Linked DNA regions of Homo sapiens: region 1 is linked to region 2. The links come from fine-mapping of genetic effects on gene expression. A gene starts in region 2. The other region holds a variant in brackets. All regions are shown on one strand. Distances are from middle to middle. Region 1 has its middle 36 kb from the start of AOC1. Region 2 holds the start of SLC4A2 (solute carrier family 4 member 2).

Region 1 (5,373 bases), 170 kb after region 2:
CACCCACTCATTAATTAACCCTCATCCCTCTCCCTTCCCCTCCCCTCCCTTTTCCTTCTCCTTCCCTCTCTCCCTTTCTCCTTCCTCCTTACCTTCCCTTCTGCTTTCCTCCCTCCTCCTCTCCGTCCCCTGCTTTTAAAAATATAACAGTGGGAGGCTGAGGTGGGAAGATCACCTGAACCTGGGAAGTTAAGGCTGCAGTGAGCTGAGATTGCATCACTGCACTCAAGCCTGGACAGTGGGAGTGAGGCCCTGTCTCAAAAAATGTTGTATCTGTCTGTCTGTCTATCTATCTATCTATCTATCTATCTATCTATCTATCTATCATCTATCTATTTACAGATTTATCGAGTTATAATTTACATACCTTACAATTCATCCATTTAGCCTGTGCAGTTCAATGGTTTCTAATATATTAACAGAGGTTGTGCAACAATCTGAATTTTAGAACATTTTTAACATTCCCCAAAGTAACCCTGTACCCATTGGCAATTACTCCCAATTTCCCCCCAAGTCCCCTCAGCCCTAAGCAATCACGAACCTACAGAAAGTAGTAAAAAGGTGGTACCATTTTACATTCTCACCAGCATGTATGAAGGTTTCAATTTCTCTACTTCTCTACATTCTTTTTTTTTTTTTTTTTTGAGATGGAGTTTCACTCTTATTGCTCTGGCTGGAGTGCAATGGCACGATCTCGGCTCACTGCAACCTCCGCTTCCCGGGTTCAAGCGATTCTCCTGCCTCAGCCTCCTGTGTAGCTGGGATTACAGGCATGCACCACCACGCATAGCTAATTTTGTATTTTTAGTAGAGACGGGATTTCACCATGTTGGTCATGGCTGGTCTTGAACTCCTGACCTCAGTTGATCTGCCCGCCTCGGCCTCCCAAAGTGCTGGGATTACAGGCACGAGCCCCTGCGCATGGCCTAATTTCTCTACATTCTTAACAACACTTGTTATTGTCTTATCTTTTTCATTATAGCCTTCCTAGTAATGGGAAATGGCATTGCTCTGTGGTTTTGGTTTGCATTTCTCTAATGACTGGTCATGTTGAGCATCTTTTCATGTGCTTATTGGCAATTTGTTTATCTTCTTTGGAGAAATGTCTATTCAAATGCTTTGCCCATCTTTAATTGGGTTGTCTTTTTATTATTGAGGTGTGTGTGTGTGTGTGTGTGTGTGTGTGTGTATGGTGGACACTAGACTCTTACCAGGTATATAAATTTATAAATATTTGCTGCCATTCTTGTTGTTGTCCTTTCACTTTCTTGATAATGTCCTTTGAAGTGCAAACATTTTTAATGTTGATGAAGTCAAATGTATCTATTTTTTCTTTAGTTGCTTGTATTTTTGGTGTAATAGTGAAGAAATCATACCCTAATTCTAGGTATTTCAATATTTTTTATTTTTATCTTTTAAGAGACAGGGTCTCACTCTGCTACCCAAGCTGGAGTGCAGTGGCATAATTACAGTCCACTGCAGCCTCGAACTCCTGAATTAAGTTATTCTCCCACCTCAGCTTCCCGAATAGCTGGGACTACAGACATGTGCCTCTATGCCTGGATTTAAAAAATATTTTTTAGAGAGGGGGCTCACTATGTTGCCCAGGCTGGTCTCAAACTCCTGGGCTCAAGTGATCATACTGCCTTGGCCTCCCAAAGTGCTGGGATTACAGGCGTGAGCCACTATGCCCAGCCTACAGTTTATATCTTGATCTTGCATTCTGCAAATAGAGATAGTTTACTTCTTCCTTTCCAATCTGAAAGCCCTTATTTAATTTTCTTCCCTAATTTCCCTGAATAGGACCTCTGGGACAATGTTGAATAGAAGTGATAAAAGTAGATATTTTTATCTTATTTCTGATCTTAGCAGGAAAGCATTCAGTCTTTCCTCATTAAGTATGATCTCAGCTGTGTGTGTGTGTGTGTGTGTGTGTGTGTGTGTGTGTGAATTTTTTTGGTGGATTCCCTTTATCAGGTTGATGAAGGTTTCTTCTATTCCTAGTTTGTTCAGTGTTTTCATCATGACAGGGTATTGAATTTACTTAATGTTTTACTGAATCCATTGAAATGATCATGTGGGTTTTGTCCTTTATTCTACTGATATGATGTATTAAATTAGTTGAACTTTGGATGTTAAACCAACTTTGCATTCCTAGGATAAATCCCAGCTAGTCCGGGTGTGTAATCCTTTTTATATACTGCTGAATTTTGTTTGCTGGTATTTTGTTGAGGATTTTTGTACCTATATTAATAAGATCTCTCTCTCTATATATAACATTTATATCTATTATAAAATATAATA[C/A]ATATATTTTATAGAGACAGGGTCTCACTCTGCCACCCAGGGTGGAGTGCAATGGTGCAATCATAGCTCACTGCAGCTTCAAACTCCTGGCCTCAAGTGATCCTCCTCGGCCTCCCAAAGTGCTGGGATATAGGCATGAGCCACTGTGACTGGCCTCATAAGAGATATTGATGTGTAGTTTTCATTTCTTGTGATGTCTTTGTCTGGTTTTGGTGTAGGATAATACTGGCCCCATAGAATAAGTTGAGAAATACTCTCTTCTCTTTTATTTTTTGGAAGTGTTTGTAAAAGATTGATCTTAATTCTACTTTAGAATTTGGTAGAATTCACCATTTGAAGCCATCTGGATCTGGGCCTTCCTTTGTGGGAAATTTAACATGACTAATTCATTCTCTTTACTTGTTATAGGTCCATTCAGATTTTCTGTTTCTTCTTGAGTCACCTTCAGTAGTTGTGTCTGTTGGGAACAGGCCCCCCAAAATCTGGCCATAAGCTGGCCCCAAAACTGGCCATAAACAAAATGTCTGCAGCACTGTGACATGTTCATGATAGCCATAATGCCCACGCTGGAAGGTTGTGGGTTTACCAGAATGAGGGCAAGGTACACCTGGCCCACCCAGGGCAGAAAACCGCTTAAAGGCATTCTTAAACCACAAACAATAGCATGAGAGATCTGGGCCTTAGGGACATGCTCCTGCTGCAGATAACAAGCCAGACCCATCCCTTCCTTTCCCATAAGGGATACCTTTAGTTAATCCCGTTTCCCATAAGGAATACTTTTAGTTAATCTAATATCTATAGAAACAAAGCTAATGACTGGCTTGCTGTTAATCAATACGTGGGTAAACTCTGTTTGGGGTTCTCAGCTCTGAAGGCTATGAGATCCCTGATTTCCCACTTCATACCTCTATGTTTTTGTGTGTGTGTCTTTAATTCTTCTAGTACCACTGGGTTAGGGTCTCCCCGACCGAGCTGGTCTTGGCAGTGTCTTTCTAGAAATATGTTCATTTCTTCTAAGTTGTCTAATTTGCTGGCATAGAGTATCGTTTTATAATCATTTTTATTTCTGAAAAGTTGGTGCATTAGTTGCTAGGACCTCCATAACAAAGTATCACAGATTGGGTGGCTTAAACAATAGAAATTTATTTTCTGGCCAGGTGCAGTGGTTCACGCCTGTAATCCTAGCACTTTGGGAGGCTGAGGTGGGCAGATCACTTGAGGTCAGGAGTTTGAGACCAGCCTGGCCAACATGGTGAAATCCTGTCTCTACTCAAAAAAAAAAAAACAAAAAAAAACCCAAAAATTAGCTGGGTGTGGTGGCACATGCCTGTAATCCCAGCTACTTGGGAGGCTGAGGCAGGGGAATTGCTTGAACCTGGTGTCAGGCCTCTGAGCCCAAGCTAAGCCATCATATCCCCAGTGACCTGCACGTATACATCCAGATGGCCTGAAGCAAATGAAGATCCACAAAAGTGAAAATAGCCTTAACTGATGACATTCCACCATTGTGATTTGTTTCTGCCCCACCGTAATTGATCAATGTACTTTGTAATCTCCCCCACCCTTAAGAAGGTTCTTTATAATCTCCCCCACCCTTAAGAAGTTTCTTTGTAATTGTCCCCACCCTTGAGAATGTACTTTGTGAGATCCATCCCTGCCCCTAAAACATTGCTCTTAACTCCACCTCCTATCCCAAAACCTATAAGAACCAATGATAATCCCACCACCCTTTGCTGACTGTCTTTTCAGACTCAGCCCGCCTGCACCCAGGTGAAATAAACAGCCTTGTTACTCACACAAAGCCTGTTTGGTGGTCTCTTCACACTGACGCATGAGACACCTGGGAGGCGGAGGTTGGAGTGAGCTGAGATCACGCCACAGCACTCCAACCTGGGTGACAGAGCAAGACTCTGTCTCAACTAAAAAAAAAAGAAAGAAATGTATTTTCTCATGATTCTGGAGTCTAGAAGTCTAAGATTAAGTCCTTGGAAATTAATTTCTTCTCAGGCCTCTCTCCTTGGCTTGTAGATGACCATCTCCTCTCTGTGAACTTCACGCTGTGCATTGTCTATGTCTTAATCTTTTTTTTTTTAATAAGGACACCAATTATTTTGGATTAGGTCCTCCCAAATTACCTCACTTACCTTAATTACCTCTTTCAAGGTCCTGCGTCCAAATACAGTCACATTCTGAAGAACTGGGGGTTAGGACTTCAATATATAAGTTTTGTTTTTATCGGGGGAGACACATTTCATCACATAACAGTAGTAATGTAGTAATGTCCCCTTTTTCATTTCTGATTTTGACAGTTTGAGCCTTTCTCTCTAGCTTTCATCAATCTAGCTAAAGATTTGTCCATTTTGTTGATTTTTTTTCAAAGAACTAACTTTTGGTATTATTGATGCTCTCTATTTTTTTCTGTTCTCTTTATCTCTGTTTTAATCTTTATTATTTCTTTTCTTCTGCTTGCTTTACGCTGAGTTTGCTCTTCTAGTGTTTTAAGGTGGAAGGTTAGTTTAGTGATAGAAAATTTCTTCTTTTTTAACATAGTTATTTATAGATATAAATTTTCTTCTAAGCACTGCTTTAGTTGCATCCTATACTGTGTCTTATATATTGTGTCTTCATTTTCATTCATGTCAAAGATTTTCTAATTTCTCTTGGGATTTCTTCTTTGACCCATTGTTATTTAGGGAATATGTTGTTTAATTTCAACTTATTGTGAATTTCTCAAATTTCTTTTTGTATTGATTTCTTTTATTTCATGTGGTCAGAAAACATATGTTATATGATTTTAACCCTCAGAAATTTATTGAGGCTTCTTTTGTGGCCTAGAAAATGGTTGATCCAACCAGGTGCGGTGGCTCATACCTGTAATCCTGGCACTTTAGGAGGCCAAGGTGGGCGGATCATGAGGTCAGGAGATTGAGACCATCCTGGCCAACATGGTAAAACCCTGTCTCTATTAAAATACAAAAAATTAGCTGGGTGTGGTGGTGCGTGCCTGTAGTCCCAGCTACTTGGGAGGCTGAGGCAGGGGAATCACTTGAACTCAGGAAGCAGAGATTG
Region 2 (5,342 bases):
TGTGACCAATAGCGGAGCTGATTGTGGCACGGGGTTAATCATTAAGACTCCTTAGGAAAATCCAAAGGGGGCCATGTGGAGCGGTGGCCACGTGGGGGCAGGGAGGGGCGGGCCTGGGTGGCACGTGGGCAGGGGGCGTGGCCAGTCGTGGCAGGCGAGCTCCGCCCAGAACCCTGGCCCGCGTGCAGACTTGACCTGCGCCTCTAAGGCCAGCCGGGTCTGAGACGGGTTGCTGGGTGAGAGACCCAGGGTTCTCAAAGTTCCTCAACCGCTGAGGCTAAGCTACCTAGGTCTTCAGGTAACAGCCTCAACTCCCTCCCCAGGACTGGAAGACGTCTGATACCCCCACTACCCATCCCCCCCTACGACCATCATGCAAAGTCAGGGTAGGGATGGCAGCATCCTCCCAGTCTCCACACTCACACACGCTCACACCCCTGGTTGGCGAGGACCCTTGGCCGGAGCACCCAAGGCTGCCCAGGGAGGGAAGGTTGGGCTGGCGACCTGGGGGCCACACTCACCGTACAGAAAGAATCTGCGCCCTTGGCGGGGCGCCGAGGGGCGCTGCTCATGGCCGAATCTTAGCCCTTTTCGCTGTCGCTGCGGCTTTCAGGGCAACGAGGCGGAGGCATAACCTGGATGGGGGAGAGGCCTGATCACCATCGAGAGCCCTGGGAGGGCAGGAGCCACCACGCGCAGGCTGCGCTGCTGGGGATCCTCCTGGAGTATGAAGGGCCTCAGAGTGGCCCTTAGCGGCAGCCACAGCACAGAGGAGAGTTATTTATAGGAAGAAAAGAGAAGAACAAGGAGACAGGAGAGGACTGAGGCGAGGGGGGCCGAAAAGGGCCGAGAGGCTGAGTAGAGGGAGGAGGAGAGAGGAGGTGGGAAAGGCCGCAAGAAAAATGAGGGAGAAAGGAGTCAAGGCCCAGGCCCGGAGAGAAAGCAACAAAGATGAGGGAGGGAGTGATAATGAGCTGGGGAAAGAGGGGAGTGAAGGCCCAGGCAGACAACGGAGCCTCGCAGGGTCAGGGCACCCACCAGAGGTGGGCCTGAGACCAGAGAGGGTGTGGTGGGGAGGGTGAGACACCCCGTGGAGCCGGGGCCGGGCTGCCGAGACAGGAAGCAGACGAATGGAAGAACTCTGGAGAGAGCCCAAGATGCCCCTGCAGGGAGGGGGTGCCCCCTCCCCAGTACAGGCCGGCAGGAGGCTTCCCTCCCCCAGGTCCTTGGGGACCGGCAGGAGGGAAGCAGGCTGGCTGGGTGGAGGGCAGGAGCTCAACTCCACTCACTCACTGAGAGAGAGGAAGGCACAGAAGGTGGGCATGGGCTGGGCAGAGCTTTATAATGGGGGAGGGGCATGTGATGGGCTGGGAGGGGGTGGGCACCGCAACCTTGAGGTTCTGCCTCTGAGGGGCAGTCTGGATCCCGCCCCTCTAGAGCCTGGAGCCAGGAAAATCTGAGTGGCAGTGCTGCCACCCTCCTGACTGTGACTGTAGGGAGTCTGGGGAGGACACTGTGTGGTGGGGGCAGAGAAGGAGCTGCAGGAGGGAGCCCAATCCCTGCAAATAGGGGGCGCATTCCTAGCGGGTCAGCACAGGGGGCACCCAAGACTGGCAAAAAGTGACGGTACCCAACAACCCATGCTCCCAGTGTGTTGCTGGGGACTGGGGGTGCCTGACTTAGGAGTAAGACAAGTCAGTGTAGCGTCAAACAATATAGGTCTGGGGGGGTCACCCAGGATGGGGAGCCTGGCAACACATTCTTGGCAAGCACTCCAACTTGGCTAACCACGCTCTTCCCCTCCCCCTCAGCAGGCCTTCAGCCAGGGCGGGTGGTGTGGGTGAGCGTGAGTGCACCCAGTCTGGGAAGGGTGTGGGGAGAGTCCGCCCAGAGCACCTGCAGGCGCCCACTCCCACCTCAGGCTGTGCCCTCGTCGCGCTCCTCCACACTCCTCTGCACCCCCTCCCCTGCTGTCCCAGAACACAAAGCAGCTTCTGTCCAGAGCATCGGTGCCGATAATCCGGGTAGGGGCACATTCCCGGGACCAGCCCCGACCGGCCCAGAGGATTAGTATCTCTCCCCTTGACCAAGGGATTAGCACCTCGGACCCCCACTTGGGCATTAACCACCCCCCAAGTGAACTCGTAAATTCCGCAGCTCTTCCATGTGGGGCTGGCGGGGGAAACGAAGGGGGATAAAGTAGACCCTGGGTTTCAGGCAGTGCCGCCTCTCACACCCAGCACAGAACTTCCCGCCTGGACAAACCGACCCCGGGAGTCAGGTCCAACTCTCCGGGCTCATCTTTCCCATTCCCACCCAGCTGCTCCCTCTTCTGTCTGACCCCTTGTCCGACCTTACCCGCCACCCGCCTTTCCTGGCTTCGCCTCTCAACCCGGAGATTGGGGATGGGGGCCCCGGGCAACCCCCAGTCTGGGCGCCCCGGACGGGACTGAAGGACTATGCGGGGGGGCCGGAGGGGAGGGGTGGTCTGGAGCCAGCCGGGGAGTGGGAGGGCCGGCGGCGCCTCGGGGAGACTACCCCCTCCTGGTGGCAGGGGGCGCGGCACCCTGGCTTTAGGGAACTCTGAGAAGGGGACCCCGGAATGCCCGCTTCCGACCAGCACTCCATCCGCCTCCCCATCCTTCTCCCCAAGACCGCGGTTCCCCGCGCCCCAGTCTCCGCCCTTTCCTCCACTTCCACTCCCTCCCCGCTCGAGTCCCGAGTTCCCCCCTCTCCTTCCCCCTCCCTTCCTCCCTCTGCGGCCCTGGCCGTCCCCCGCCACCACCTCTCCGCCTACCCGCTCGCTCTGGACTTCGTGCCCCGGGGGTCTCGGGGTCTCTCCCCGTCCTCCGGCGCACTCGCGCGCTCCCGACGACTGCCCCGTGCCCACCCCGGGGCGCGCCCCCGCCGCTCCCAACTTCTCCCAACTCAACTTTCCCCCGCGCCGCGGGCAGGCCAGCCCCCTGCGTGCGCGCCCCCCGGCGCACCGTGCGCGGTCCCGCCTTCGCGGGTGGGGAGGCGGGAGCGGGGGCCGGGGCGGGGGCGCGCTTCCAGGCACAGCCCGGCACCAGGGGCCGCCCCCGCCGTCCCTCTGCCCCAAGCTTCTCCACTCGGGGCTCGGGAGCCCCGAGGATGCCGTCCCTTGGCTCCATTACGGCACCTCTGAGTGTAAAGGAGCCCTTCTCACGCTAGGGATCCCAGGCAGCAAAACGCAGGCACAAGGAAATTCGGGGAAGTCGAAACATAAACGTATCGGGGTTGAGATTCTCTTGCCCCCCTCAATAACCCCCGTGCCTCCAAGAAAGCCCCTGAGGGACGGGTGGCGAGTGGGTGAGAAGGGTGACAGGGGCTGGAGGCTGGCCGCCCGGTACCCTGAGCTGATCTGGGAGAGGGTAACTTGTTAGAGGCTCTCCACTTCCAGAGAGGGACAGAGATTCGCTGTGCTGGCCTCCTTCCTCTTGAATGGAACCTCCACACTGAACCGAACCCTAGGCAGAGCCATCACTTATCATTCAAGACCTTTGTGTGTAGTTCTTTTTTGCCCAACGAAATCACAAAGTCTTCCAGATAAGGAATACACTTTTTGCTTCTTTTCCCTTGTGTATGCAAAAGCATTCAGATAGAAACGAGTTAATTAACACGTGTTTAGCAGCAACTCTGGTTCCGGTGCTGAGGAGTGCTGTTTGGGATCCTTTTCCCTCGGTCCATAGCCCTCAAGAATGCAATCATGAGACAATTAGAGAGGCAGCGTAAGGGAATCTATAATCAGCTCCTTTAAGGGGTGAGGCAGAGGCTGCTGCAAGTTGAGCATCGGTCTGTGGTCTTGTCTGTGGAGGGGGTTAACCAACCTGCCTGCCACACCCTGGCTGACTCCAGTGGGCCCTGTTCCGGAGACTGGGGTCTGAGGGGGACCCCCAGGGCTCCACCCAGTTTTCCTCAGCATGTCAGAGTTCAGCGGCTAGAGTCGGGTGGGCTCCGAGACAACAAACGGGGCTCAGCAGAGAGGGGGTCTTTGGCGTGTGTCCCTCCACTAAAATCCAGCCTCGAAGGGGCACAGCTGTTCTCCCAGCCCTGCGGTCAGCTGTTCCCTGTGAGGTCATCATCGCTCACAGGCATTCCCCAGTCAATTCTGGGGTCACTAGGTGGCTTGGGGAGAGGTGGAAACCCGTGCTGAGGTCGTCAAGAGGCCGTTGGGAACACAATGCCACCAACCAGGTCAGCGCTGGGCCGCCAGTGCCCGGGATCTAGGCCGCCAAACCCCAAACCCCTAACCGAGAGCGCTCCGCCCCCATTTCCGCTGCATTCTGGAACGCGTAGTCCCGGAGCGGCCCTTTTCAAGAGGGCTGGGAGCACATAAAAGGAATAACAACAGCGGGGCACACTGGGAACCACGGCGCCGCGGCGGGGCGCCCGGAAAACGGACACGCGTTGCTTCCTGGGACTTGAAGTCCAAGGTTTGCCTCCGCGGTAGAAACGGAGCCCTGGAGTCGAGTGCTGCAGAGAGCGTGAGCGCAGACGGCTGGGGGTTGTAGTCTTCTTGTCCTCGGTCTCGGGCATTGCGGGGAGACCTAGTCGTTTTAGGACTACAAGCCCCAGAAGGCCCTGCGCGGGCAGACGGGGCGGGGCTGGAGGCTCAGGTGCCGCCTCCTCTGCAACGCCGGGGCCAGAGTCTTAAAACCGAGGGCCCGCAGGGGTCCCCGCGGCCGCCGCGATGCAGAAATACGAGAAACTGGAAAAGATTGGGGAAGGTAATGGAATCTCGAGATGTTCCTGCAAGAGCTCCTCTGCAGATCCTTCGGCATTCCTTGAAGCCCTGGCTCCCTTACCGTCAGCAATGCCTACAGGCTCCGATCTCAGCAGCGGCTGCAGCCCTGGCCCCCTAGCTCAGCACTCCGTGCAGACACCAGTCTTCCCCGTGTTAGCATTTCCCGCAGGGCTCTCACTCCAACCTTAGCGTTCCCAGTAGACCCGACCTCCCAACCGCGACACTTCCTGAAATTTCTCACCCCAGCCTCAGCAGCACTTGGACAACCTCACCCCGACCCCCAGCCTCGTTTCTTGCTGCAGACCTCCAACCTCAATATTTCTGCAGCCCCTCAGTCCTCTCCCAGACCCCTCCTCACTATTTCCAGACCCTTCCGGAGCACCGCCTTCATTTTAGACATCCTTGCCCTGGCAACCGCACTCGCCCCTCCTGCCGAGCCCCTGGAGCCTCGGTGGGCACCTTCTCCTCCCTCCCCACCTGCCACATCCTCACTCACAAAGCTCACCAACCTACCTTCACCCTGAATCCCTTCCCTTGCATACTGAGACGCTGCCTTCACCTCTCTCAGGAGGCATTT

Evidence for each region.
Region 1: its variant is fine-mapped to the expression of SLC4A2 in whole blood (TOPMed, PIP above 0.99).

What each region holds. Positions count from the first base shown.
Region 1 is chr7:150,886,013-150,891,385 of GRCh38, reverse strand. No RefSeq gene overlaps it. Among named protein-coding and RNA genes, the nearest start is that of AOC1, 36 kb to the right of the region's middle. The variant C/A (reference allele first, on the strand shown) is at 2,305.
Region 2 is chr7:151,057,218-151,062,559 of GRCh38, reverse strand. SLC4A2 (solute carrier family 4 member 2) reads right to left here and starts at 2,971. Exons shown (of 23, transcript NM_003040.4): 1 at 2,798-2,971; 2 at 522-635. The coding sequence starts at 572. It overlaps CDK5 (cyclin dependent kinase 5), which reads left to right and starts at 4,663. Exons shown (of 12, transcript NM_004935.4): 1 at 4,663-4,748. The coding sequence starts at 4,712. LOC128092247 reads right to left here and starts at 632. Exons shown (of 1, transcript NM_001414898.1): 1 at 582-632. The coding sequence starts at 632. The coding sequence ends at 582. RefSeq lists enhancers at 1,270-2,177, 3,701-3,790, 3,831-3,880, 3,961-4,240, 4,391-4,440 and 2 more and silencers at 2,278-2,867, 2,908-3,097.